Homo sapiens: one gene and its partners. The protein of the gene in region 1 purifies or fractionates together with the protein of each later gene. This does not show direct contact. Each region holds a gene or a part of one and is shown on either strand. Other genes may lie near its edges.

Region 1 (3,500 bases):
CTTTGACTTAACGTGTTTTCAAGGTTCGCCCGGGTTCTAATAGATCAGTAGCACTTCATTGCACGTTCAAGTCCTTGAACATACTAGGTATCTGCTTTAAAGTCCTTTTGTGCTAATTCTAACATCTGGAATTTTTCTGAATGTGAAGGGGGATAAACAGTGAAGTTTGACACCCTCCACACTGCTCAGAAGAAAGCTCCGAGTGGATCTGAGATTCAAATGTGAAAGGCCCAATTATGAATCTCTCAGGAGATGCTAGAGATAAGAGAATAGCCTTCAGAATAGGAAGGGATTTCTCAAACAGGACACAGAAAGCTTAAGCCTTGATGGAAGAGGCAGATCAATTCAATTAGATTAAAATGAAGAACCTTGGGGCAGAGTTTGGGTTTTGTAAAATGAAAAGAGTTCTGGAGTTAAGCATCGTGAACATGCTTAACACTACTGAACTGTACACTCATTTTATAATAAAACTATTAAATTGTAAAAGGTGAGAACCTCCTCTTCATCAAAGAACATAAATAGACTGAAAGACAATGCTGGGGATGAAAAATCATTGACCATTATTCTTCAAAGTGAGTGGAAGGCAATGTCCCTGCAGGGTTTGAGCGGAAGAGTGGGCATGGCCTGGCGGGCCCTATGCCAGCCAGTTTTGCTGCTCTGTTGAGAGCAGCCTGTGGGACAGAGAGGTCGGGTAGTAGCAGAGAGCTAAGTGGCGAGAAGTGGTCAGATTCTGGACACACACTGCAGGCAGACCCAGGACTTGGCCGGTGGAGTCCTCACAACATGGCAAGGAAGTAACTGCGGTCAGGAATCCAGGGCGCTCAGGAGCTTAGCCTGGAGCTGTGGAGTTAAAATCCCTGTCAGACGCGCAGGCCGGTAGACAGGTGGCTGCAGGTGGAAATGTGGGGTTTGTAAGCGTGTATAAGAAGTGGGTTTAAGGTCATGATACTGGGAGCACTCTTCTAAAGAGCAAGTGTAGACAGAGGAGAAGCCCCAGGCAGAGTGGGAGGAAGAAGGCAAACCAGGCGCTGGGGAAGAAATGCACTGGGGAGGAAGCCTGACGAGGGTGGCGTCCTGGAGGCCCCAGAGCACAGCCCATCAGAGAGGATGCCCTGCTGGCCTGGCTGGGTTCAGCTGATCGCAGCCGCCTGGCTCTTGCATCTGCACTTGGCCATAGGGCGGCCAGGCGGCTCTGCTGGCCCTGACTGGGCTCACACACGCGTGTGCCTGGGGTCCGCAGCCGGAGACTGATTGAGAATGGTCTTGGAGGCAGCTGCGGCACCTCAGCTTTGCTTTCTGTGTCTGAGCCCAGCACGCCAGCCTGGGCACGGCGTTCTCGCGACAGCAGCAGAGGGCAACAGCAAGACAAGCCCAGGCGCATGAGTTCATTTCAGCCTGCCCTGCCACGTGTCTGCCACTGTCCCATTGGCCAAAGCAAGCCACAGTCACCCAGATTCAAGGGATGGAGAGGGACCTGCCACCTCTGTGCTGGGGAGGGAGGAATTGGAGCCTTAGAGCAGGTCATGTCCCTCCACGGGGGAGGGGGAAGCAACTGCACCCCATGTGCCGGTGGGCCACATTCTGGTGAGAAGGCGCCCCAGCTTTAGGGACACGAAGGTTGCCAGTGGCCTGGAGAGACCAGAACCCAGGCCTGCCGGGAGCAGCTAAAGCGGGACAGGAGTGGGCTGGGCTGGGGCTGCAAGCGCTCTAGTATCTTGAGGGCTGCCGCAGGTGGCCAGAAACTGACAGCCACTGGTGAGAGTGAGAGAGGAACCAGGGAGAAGCAGGGCTGTGTCTGGTGGAGATACTGGTCCACCAGAGAATGGGAGAGCGGCTGGAGCAGTGTCCCTGGGAAGCGTTGTTTGTTTTTGAGATGGAGTCTCACCCTGTTGCCCGGGCTGGAGTGCACTGATGTGATCTCGGCTCACTGCAACCTCCGCCTCTCACGTTCAAGCAATTCTCCTGCCTCAGCCTCCTGAGTAGCTGGGATTAGCTGTTGGGGACACGAGATGCGCCACCACACCCAGCTAATTTTGTGTTTTTAGTAGAGACGGGGTTTCACCAAGCTGGCCAGGCTGGTCTCAAAATCCTGACCTCAGGTGATCCACCCACCTCTGCCTCCCAAAGTGTTGGGATTACAGGCGTGAGCCACCGCGCCCAGCCTCGTGAGTGTTGTTTAAATAGAAGGGAAGGAACCAGGAACAACTCGAATGTCCAGAAGACTCAGGGAACCAGCGATCCCGCGTTTATATCCAACAGGAGGACGAGATGAGCTCCCTGTCCCCATGCAGACGGTCCCACAGCTGGTCGTAAAGGAAAGAAGCTGGCTGCCCAGGCAGTCAGGCCTGCATAAGCCCCACATTCTGCAGGGCAAGTGCATGTGGCGTGGCTCAGGAAGAGCAGGGATGAAGAGAGTGGGAACCCCACGAGGAACCGTGGGCAGCAGGCTGGCGGGGAGCCCGCGGTGCCTGGCGCGTTCTGTCTTCTGGCCTGGAACGTAATCACGCGGGCGCTCTGCTTCTCACCCTTGCATTTGCGTGCACGCTCTGCTGTGCTCAGAGTCACTGACACCAAGGGCCCTGTGTGGCTGGGTGGGGATGCGAGATGCAGGCTTGCCTGGTGACAGGACTTCTTGCTTCCTGAGTTGTACCCTGCACAGACTGCAGAGGCTATCATAACATATCCGAAGGGAGGTGCCCAGGTGAGGGAGCCGTTCTTCTGCGGCTCTTGCTGGAGCGGCCGCCCTCGTTTTCAGCTTACACAGCGAGTCCTTTTGGGTCTCAGGTAGCGTGCCAGGTCCGTCTCGCCTGATTAACACTCTGTGTGCCTCCTCTGCTGCAGGCATGGAAAGCTCACCTGATGGGCCCAGCCGGCTGCACGATGAACCTGCGCAAGACACACATTCTGCAGAAGGCCCCGGCACTGCAGCCAGGTGAGGGACAGCGCCGCTGAGCAGGTGTAGTCTGCATCCCTCCATTTTGACTTATTCAAAAAAGCATCCCCGTCCAGGGCAACATGGCAAGACCCCATCCCTTTAAAAGCAAAATAAAGCATCCAAGCCTGTCTTCATGTTCTGGTTCCTTAGTAAGCAGGCTAATAATCAGAATCGTGTGACCAAAATCCTTCTCCACCTGCAAACTGGCTGTGCAGTGCGAAGGCTCCACGGGTGGCCTAGGATTCACACTCCCGTCCTCCGCTCTTTCTACATCACTGACTCAAGTGTTTAGAATCAGGAAGCTGGCCAGGCACAGTGGCTCACGCCTATAATCCCAGCACTTTGGGGGCTAAGGCAGGCAGATCACTTGAGGTCAGGAGTTCGAGATGAGCCTGGCCAACATGGTGAAACCCTATAAAAAATTGGCCGGGCACAGTGGCCGGCACCTATAGTCCAGCTACTCAGGAGGCTGAAGCAGGAGAATTGCTTGAACCCGGGAGGTGGAGGTTGTGGTGAGCCAATATTGCGCCACTGCCCTCCAGCCTGGGTGACAGAGTGAGACTCT
Region 2 (3,500 bases), on another chromosome or scaffold:
GTTTGTATCCTGTCCCAAATCTCATTTCAAATTGTAATCCTCAATGTTGAAAGAGGGGTTGCTGGGGGATGACTGGATCATGGGGTTGGATATCCCCTTTCCTGTTCTCATAATAGTGAGTTATCAAGAGATCTGGTTGTTTAAAAGTGTGTAGCATCTCCTCCTGCCCTCTCTTCCTCCTTCTCCGGCCATGTAAGACGTGACTCCTTCCTCTTCACTTTCTGCCATAATTGTAAATTTCCGAGGTCTACCCAGCCATGAGGAACTATGAGTCAATGAAGTCTCTTTTCTTTATAAATTACCTTGTCTCAGTTCTTTACAGCAATGTGAGAACAGAATACAGATGGAAAACCCCAACATACTTGTAGACTAAATACACTTCTAAGTTACATACAAGTCAAAGAAATCTCAAGTGAAATTTTTAAATATTTTGAAATAAATGAAAATACAATGTATCAAGATTTGCGGTATGCAGTGAAAGCGGTGCCTAGAGGAAATTTATGGCACTGAAGGCATATATTAGAAAAGAAGAAAGATCTAAAATCGATCATCTAAGTGCACATCCTAGGAAACTAACAAAGGAAGAGCAAATTAAATCCAAAGTGAGCAGGAGAAAAATAAAAAATAAAAAATTTGCATAGAAATCAGTGAAACTGAAAAAAGGAAATCAACAGAAAATCAACAAAAACAAACTCGGGTTCTTGGAAAAGATCAATAAAATTGATAAGCTTCTGGTCAGGCTAAGAAAAACAGAGAAACAAATTACTAATATCAGAAATGAAAGACAGACTATCACTACAAATCACATAAACATTAAAAGGATAATAAAGGAATACTATTAACAACTCTATGCTTATAAATTGGGTAACCTAGATAAAATGGATCAATTCCTTGAAAGACACAATGTGTAAAAACACACACAAGAAGATATGGATAATCTGACTAGGCCTGTATCTGTAAAGAAACTGAATAATTAATAACCTTCCAAAACAGAAAGCACCAGAGTCAGATGGGTTTACTGGTGGATTCCACTGAACATTTAAAGAAAAAATTATACCAATTCTCTGCAATTACCTTCAGAATATAGAAGCAGGGAGAATACTTTCTGACTCATTCTAAAAGGCCAGCACTACCCTAATACCAAAACCAGCAAAGACCTTATAAGAAAAAAAACAAAAACAAAACAAAACAAAAACCCCACAGACCAATATCACCTATGAACAAACATGTGAAAATCCTCAACAAAATATTAGTAAATTGAATCCAACAATATACAAAATGAATAACACACCACAACCAAGTGGAATTTATCCCAGGTATGCAAGGCTGGCTCAACATTTGAAAATCAATTAATATAACCCATCACATCATCAGGTTTAAGAAGAAAAATCACATAATTATATCAATAGATGCAAAAAAGCATTAGACAAAATCTAATATCCATATATGATGAAAACTCTCAGCAAACTAGGAATACAGGGGGAACTTTCTCAACTTTATAGCGAACACTACAAGAAAGCATACAGATAACATCATATTTATGAGAAACTCAAAACTTTCCCACTAAGATTAGAAACAAGGCAAGGATGTCCTCTCTCATCACTGCTTTTCAATATCATATTGGAAGTTCAAACTAATGCAATAAGACAAGAAAAGGAATAAAAAGTATACAGATTGGGAAGAAATAAAATTGTCTTTGTTCACAGATGACATGATTGTCTGCATAGAAAGTCTCAAAGAATTAACAAAAAAAATCCTCCTGCGAATAATAAATGATTATATTATAGCAAGCTTGCAGGACACAAAGTTAATGTGCAAAAGTCAAGCATTTTCCTCTATACCAGCAATGAACAAGTGGAATTTGAAATTTAAAAAAAATTACCATTTACATTAACATACAGAAGTAGGATATTTCAATCTAAATTTAGCAAAATATGTACAGTATCTATATGAGGAAAGTATAGAACTCCAATGCAAGATATCAAAGAAGAGCTAAATAAATGAAGAGATAATCCATGTTTGTGGATAGGAAGACTCAATATTGTCAAGCTGTTAGTTTTTCTCAACTTGATCTATAGATTCAATGCAATCCCAATCAAACTCTCAGCAACTTATTTTTTGGACATCAACAAACTGATTCTAAAGTTTATACAGAGAGGCAAAAAACCCAGAAGAGTGAACTCAACATGGAAGGAAAACAACAAAGTCAGAAGACTGACACTACGGAACTTCAAGATTTACTATAAAGCTACAGTAATCAAGACAATGTGTTATGGGCAAAAATAGGCACACTAATGGAGCAGAGTAAAGAGCCCAGAAAAAGACCCACATGAATACAGTCAGCTGATCTTTGACAAAGAAGTAAAGGCAATGGAGTAAAGACAGTGTTGTCAACAAATGGTGCTGCAACAACTGAACATGCACATGTAAAAAAAAATGAATCTAGAAACAGACCTGACACCCTTCATAAAAATTAACTCCAAATGGATCATAGACTTAAATGTAAATTGTAAAACTATAAAATGCCTAGAAGATAACATAGGAGAAAACCTAGATGACCTTGGGTATGGTGATGACTTTTTAGATATGATACCAAAGGCATGATCCATGCAAGAAAAAACTGATTAACTGGACTTTATTAAAACTTTAAAACTTCTGCTCTGAGAAAGTTAATGTCAAGAGAATGAGAAGACAAGACACAAAGTGGGAGAAAATATTTTCAAAAGATACATCTGATAGGCCAGGCGTGGTAGCTTGCACCTGTAATCCCAGCACTTTAGGAGGCCAAGGTGGGCAATCGCTTGAGTCCGGGAGTTCAAGACCAGCCTGGCCAACATGGTGAAATCCCGTCTCTACTAAAAATACAAAAAATTAGCCGGGCATGATGGTGTGGGCCTGTAGTCTCAGCTACTTGGGAGCCTGAGGCAGGAGAATTACTTGATCCCGGGAGGCAGAGGTTGCAGTGAGCCGAGATCGCACTGCACTCCAGCCTGGGCTGTCTCACAAAAAAAAAAAAAGAAAAGAAAGAAAAGAAAGAAAGAAAGGAAGGAAGGAAGGAAGGAAGGAAGGAAGGAAGGAAAGAAAGAAAGAAATGAGGTATCAAACCATGAAAAGACATAAAGGAAACTTAAATGCATATTACTAAGTGAAAGAAACCAATCTGAAAATGCAAGCTACTGTATAACTCCAAGTATGTGACATTCTGGAAATGACAAAACTATGGAGACAGAAAAAAAGACCACTGGTTGCTAAGGCTTGGGAATGGGGTGAGAGAGGGAAGAATGTACATGTAGAGAACAGAGAATTTAGGGCACTGAAACTATTGTTATGATACTATAATGGTGGATACAAGACATGGATACATTTGTCAAAACCCCACAGAATGTACTGAACATAAGACATGGATACATTTGCCAAAATCCCATAGAATGTACAACACAAGAGTGAATCTTAATGTAAACTATGGGCCTTGGGTGATAATTATATGTTAATATGGGTTC
Region 3 (3,500 bases), on another chromosome or scaffold:
TATCCTCCATATATAAGTGAGATCATTCAGTATCTGTCTCTGTTTGACTGGCTTATTTCATTTAACACAATGTCTTCCAGTTCATTTATGTTGTCACAAATGACAGGATTTCATTCTTTTTTAAGGCTAAATAGTATTCCATTGTGTATATATACCACTTTTTTTAATCCATTCATCCATTGATGGACACTTTTGATTCCGTATCTTGGCTATTGTGAATAATGTTGCAGTGAACTTTCAAGTACAGATGTCTCTTGAATGTACTAATTTTACATCCTTTGGATATATACCCAGAAGTGGGATTGCTGGATCATATAGTAGTTCTATTTTTAATTTTTTGTGGAACCTCTGTACTATTTTCTATAATAGCTGTACTAATTTACATTCCCACCAACAGTGTACAGAGGTTCCCTTCATCACATATATGGTTTCCAAATATAGTCTCCCATTCCATAGGTTCTCTTCACTCTATTGATGGTTTCGTTGGCTGTGCAAAAGCTTCGTAGTCTTTTAAAATAATTTTTAAAAAATAATTTAAAATCCAGATTCTACAAACTTCTTAGTGTGATGTAATCCCATTTATTTATTTTTGGTTTTGTTACCAGTGCTTTGGGGTTTATATCCAAAAAAAGTCATTGCCCAGACCAATGTCGTGCAACTTTCCCCTTATGTTTTCTTCTAGTAGTTTTACAGTTTCAGGTCTTACATTTAAATCTTGAATCCTTTTCGTGTTAAATTTTTTTATATGGTAAAGGATGAGGGTCTAATTTCATTCTGCATGTGGATATCCAGTTGTCCCAAAATGATTTATTGAGACTGTTATTCTTAACATCTGTGAAAAGTATGTTTCTGTAACTGTCTTTTCTGTGTTCTTAACATCTTTCTCAAAAATCAATTGACTTTAAATGCATGGATTTATTTCTGGGCTCTTTATTCTGTTTCCTTGGTCTATGGCTGTTTTGATTACTGTAGCTTTGTGGTAGATTTTCAAATCAGAGAGTGTGATCTCTCTGGCTTTGTTTTTTTGGCTTAATATTGCATTGCCTGTTCAGGGTCTTTTGTGGTTCAGTATGAATTTTAGGATTTTTTTTTCTATTACTGTGAAAATATTATTGGAAAATTGATAGGGATTGCATTGAGTCTGTAGATTGCTTTGAGTGGTGTCAACCTTGTAACAACATTCATGTTTCCAATCCATGAACACACGTTATCTTTCCATTTATTTGTGTCTTCTTCAATTTTTTTCATCAATGTGTTATAGTTTTCAGTGTACAGATCTTTCACCTCACTGGTTAAATTTACCCCTATGTATTTTTTTTGTAGCTATTGTAAATGAGATTTTTTTTCTTTTTTTTCAGATAGTTTACTTTTAGTGTATAGAAATGCTACTGATTTTTGTATGTTGATTTTATATCCTGCAGCTTTACCAAAGTAGTTTGTTAGTTCTAACAATTTTTTGGTGGAATTTTTTATAAGATTTTCAATATATAAGAGCATGCCATCTGCGAACAGAAACAATTTCATTTCCTTTTTTCCAATTTCAATGCCTTTTATTTTTCCCTCTTGTCTAATTACTATAGCTAGGACTTCTAGTACTATGTTGAATAGAAGGGGTAAGAGTGAATATCCTTGTCTTGTCCCTCATCTTAGAGGAAAAACTTTCAGTTTTCACCATTGCGTATGATGCTAGCTGTGGGCTTGTCATAAATGGCCTTCATTGTGTTGAGCTAGATTCTTTCTATACCTAATTTGTTGAGAGTTTTTATCATCAAAGGATGTTGAATTTTGTCAAATGCCTTTGTTCCATCTATTGAGATGATCATACGGTTTTTGTCTTTCATTCTGTTAATGTGATGTATCACCTTTACTGATTTGCATATGTTGAACCATCCTTGTATCCCAGGGATAAATCTGACTTGATCCTGGTGAATGACCTTTTTAATGCGCTGTTGTATTCAGCTTGCCAGTATTTTGTAGAGGATTTTTGCTTCTATGTTCACTGGGGATATTGACCTTTGATTTTCTTTTCTTGTAGTGGATTTGTCTGGCTTTGGAATCAGGATAATGCTGGCCTCCTAAATTGAGTTCGAAAGTTTCCCCTCCTCTTCAGTATTTTGGAAGAGTTTGAGAAGGATTTGTATTAGTTCTTCTTTAAATGTTTGGTAGAATTCAGTAGTGAAGGCATCAAGTCCTGGGGGTTTTGTTTAGTGGGAGACTTAACTACTGATTTGATCTCTCTACTTATTATTGGTCTGTTCAGATTACCTATTTCTTTATGATTTAGTCTTGATAGGTTGTATGTGTCTAGGAACTTATCCATTCTAGGTTATCCAATCTGTTGGCATATAATTGGTCATAGCAATCTCTTATGAGCCTTCATATTTCTTTTGTTTTAATTGTAAAGTCATGTTTATTGGAGTATGAACTTATATGCAGTAAAATTTACCATTAAGTATGAGATTGGACAAATGCATAATCATACCATAATCAAGATGTAGAATAGTTGTAGAACAAGATATAGAATCACTCCAAAAATTCCCTCATGCTCCTTTGCAGTCACCCCTTTTTTATCCCTAGGAATGCATTGTTCTGTTTTCTGTCAAAAGGGCCAAATTTAATCACTGCAATGGTCTCCAGTACTGTGGAAAAATTCCTGAGCATACAAAACACACAAACCAAGTTTTTAAAAAATGAGATACTTTTAAAAATGTCTTTAGCATATCAACCAAATGAAGGTAGCTTCATATTTTACTACAGATGCTCAGATATCTTAGGCAGAATTAAGTCCACCATTGCCATATATATGCCTCAACAGTAATATTTAAGAGTAGACTGTAAAAATAAACTTACAATCTTTAGAATCGTCAAAACAATGGGATTATTAAATGACCTTTGTAAGTTAAAGCAAAGTTTATAAAGTTGTCTTACATAGTTGTGAAATAGCTAGTCTAGTTAGATAGAATTAACGTCTCCTAAAACTGACCTGCTTGAAGAACTACTGTAGGTCATGTCTTTGTAGGTAGAGTATGTGAACGAAGATTAAGTACTTGCTCTTTTGTGTTAACACTGTGTCAAGTTTCAGACTGGGGCTGGTTGATAGAAAAACTAGTTAAAAAAAACTATTTTAAATAATGGAATTGAATTTTATGGAAATTCTCTGTGGCACCAACTCAACCACAGGACAGAAACAAAAAATTCTCATCTAAACATTCCTGTAGAAAATTGGGACCATCTAAAAATTCACCCCAGCTACCACCATGAAAGAAACAAAGAAAGCAAAAACTTCTGTTCTGAATATATCAGTGGTCCCATATTCAGATACTTCTTATCTACTTGAAAAGCTTTGATGGGTGGGGCACGGTGGCCCACACCTGTAATCCCAGCACTTTGGGCCCAGGTGGGCAGATCACCTGAGGCTAAGAGTTCGAGACCAGCCTGGCCAACATGGTGGAATGCTGTCTCTACTAAAAATACAAAAATTAACTGGGCGTGGTGGTGCA

The links.
Region 2: the proteins of CEP104 (region 1) and TOGARAM1 purify together in Homo sapiens (co-immunoprecipitation; one large-scale study listed by IntAct). This does not show direct contact.
Region 3: the proteins of CEP104 (region 1) and WASHC3 purify together in Homo sapiens (co-immunoprecipitation; one large-scale study listed by IntAct). This does not show direct contact.

Annotation. Positions count from the first base shown.
Region 1 is NC_000001.11:3,815,712-3,819,211, reverse strand, and holds part of CEP104 (centrosomal protein of 104 kDa), read left to right. Parts: intron 1-2,841; coding exon 2,842-2,932; intron 2,933-3,500. UniProt on the Homo sapiens protein: Required for ciliogenesis and for structural integrity at the ciliary tip.
Region 2 is NC_000014.9:44,968,690-44,972,189, reverse strand, and holds part of TOGARAM1 (TOG array regulator of axonemal microtubules protein 1), read right to left. Parts: intron 1-3,500. UniProt on the Homo sapiens protein: Involved in ciliogenesis. It is required for appropriate acetylation and polyglutamylation of ciliary microtubules, and regulation of cilium length.
Region 3 is NC_000012.12:102,055,492-102,058,991, reverse strand, and holds part of WASHC3 (WASH complex subunit 3), read left to right. Parts: intron 1-3,500. UniProt on the Homo sapiens protein: Acts as a component of the WASH core complex that functions as a nucleation-promoting factor (NPF) at the surface of endosomes, where it recruits and activates the Arp2/3 complex to induce actin polymerization, playing a key role in the fission of tubules that serve as transport intermediates during endosome sorting.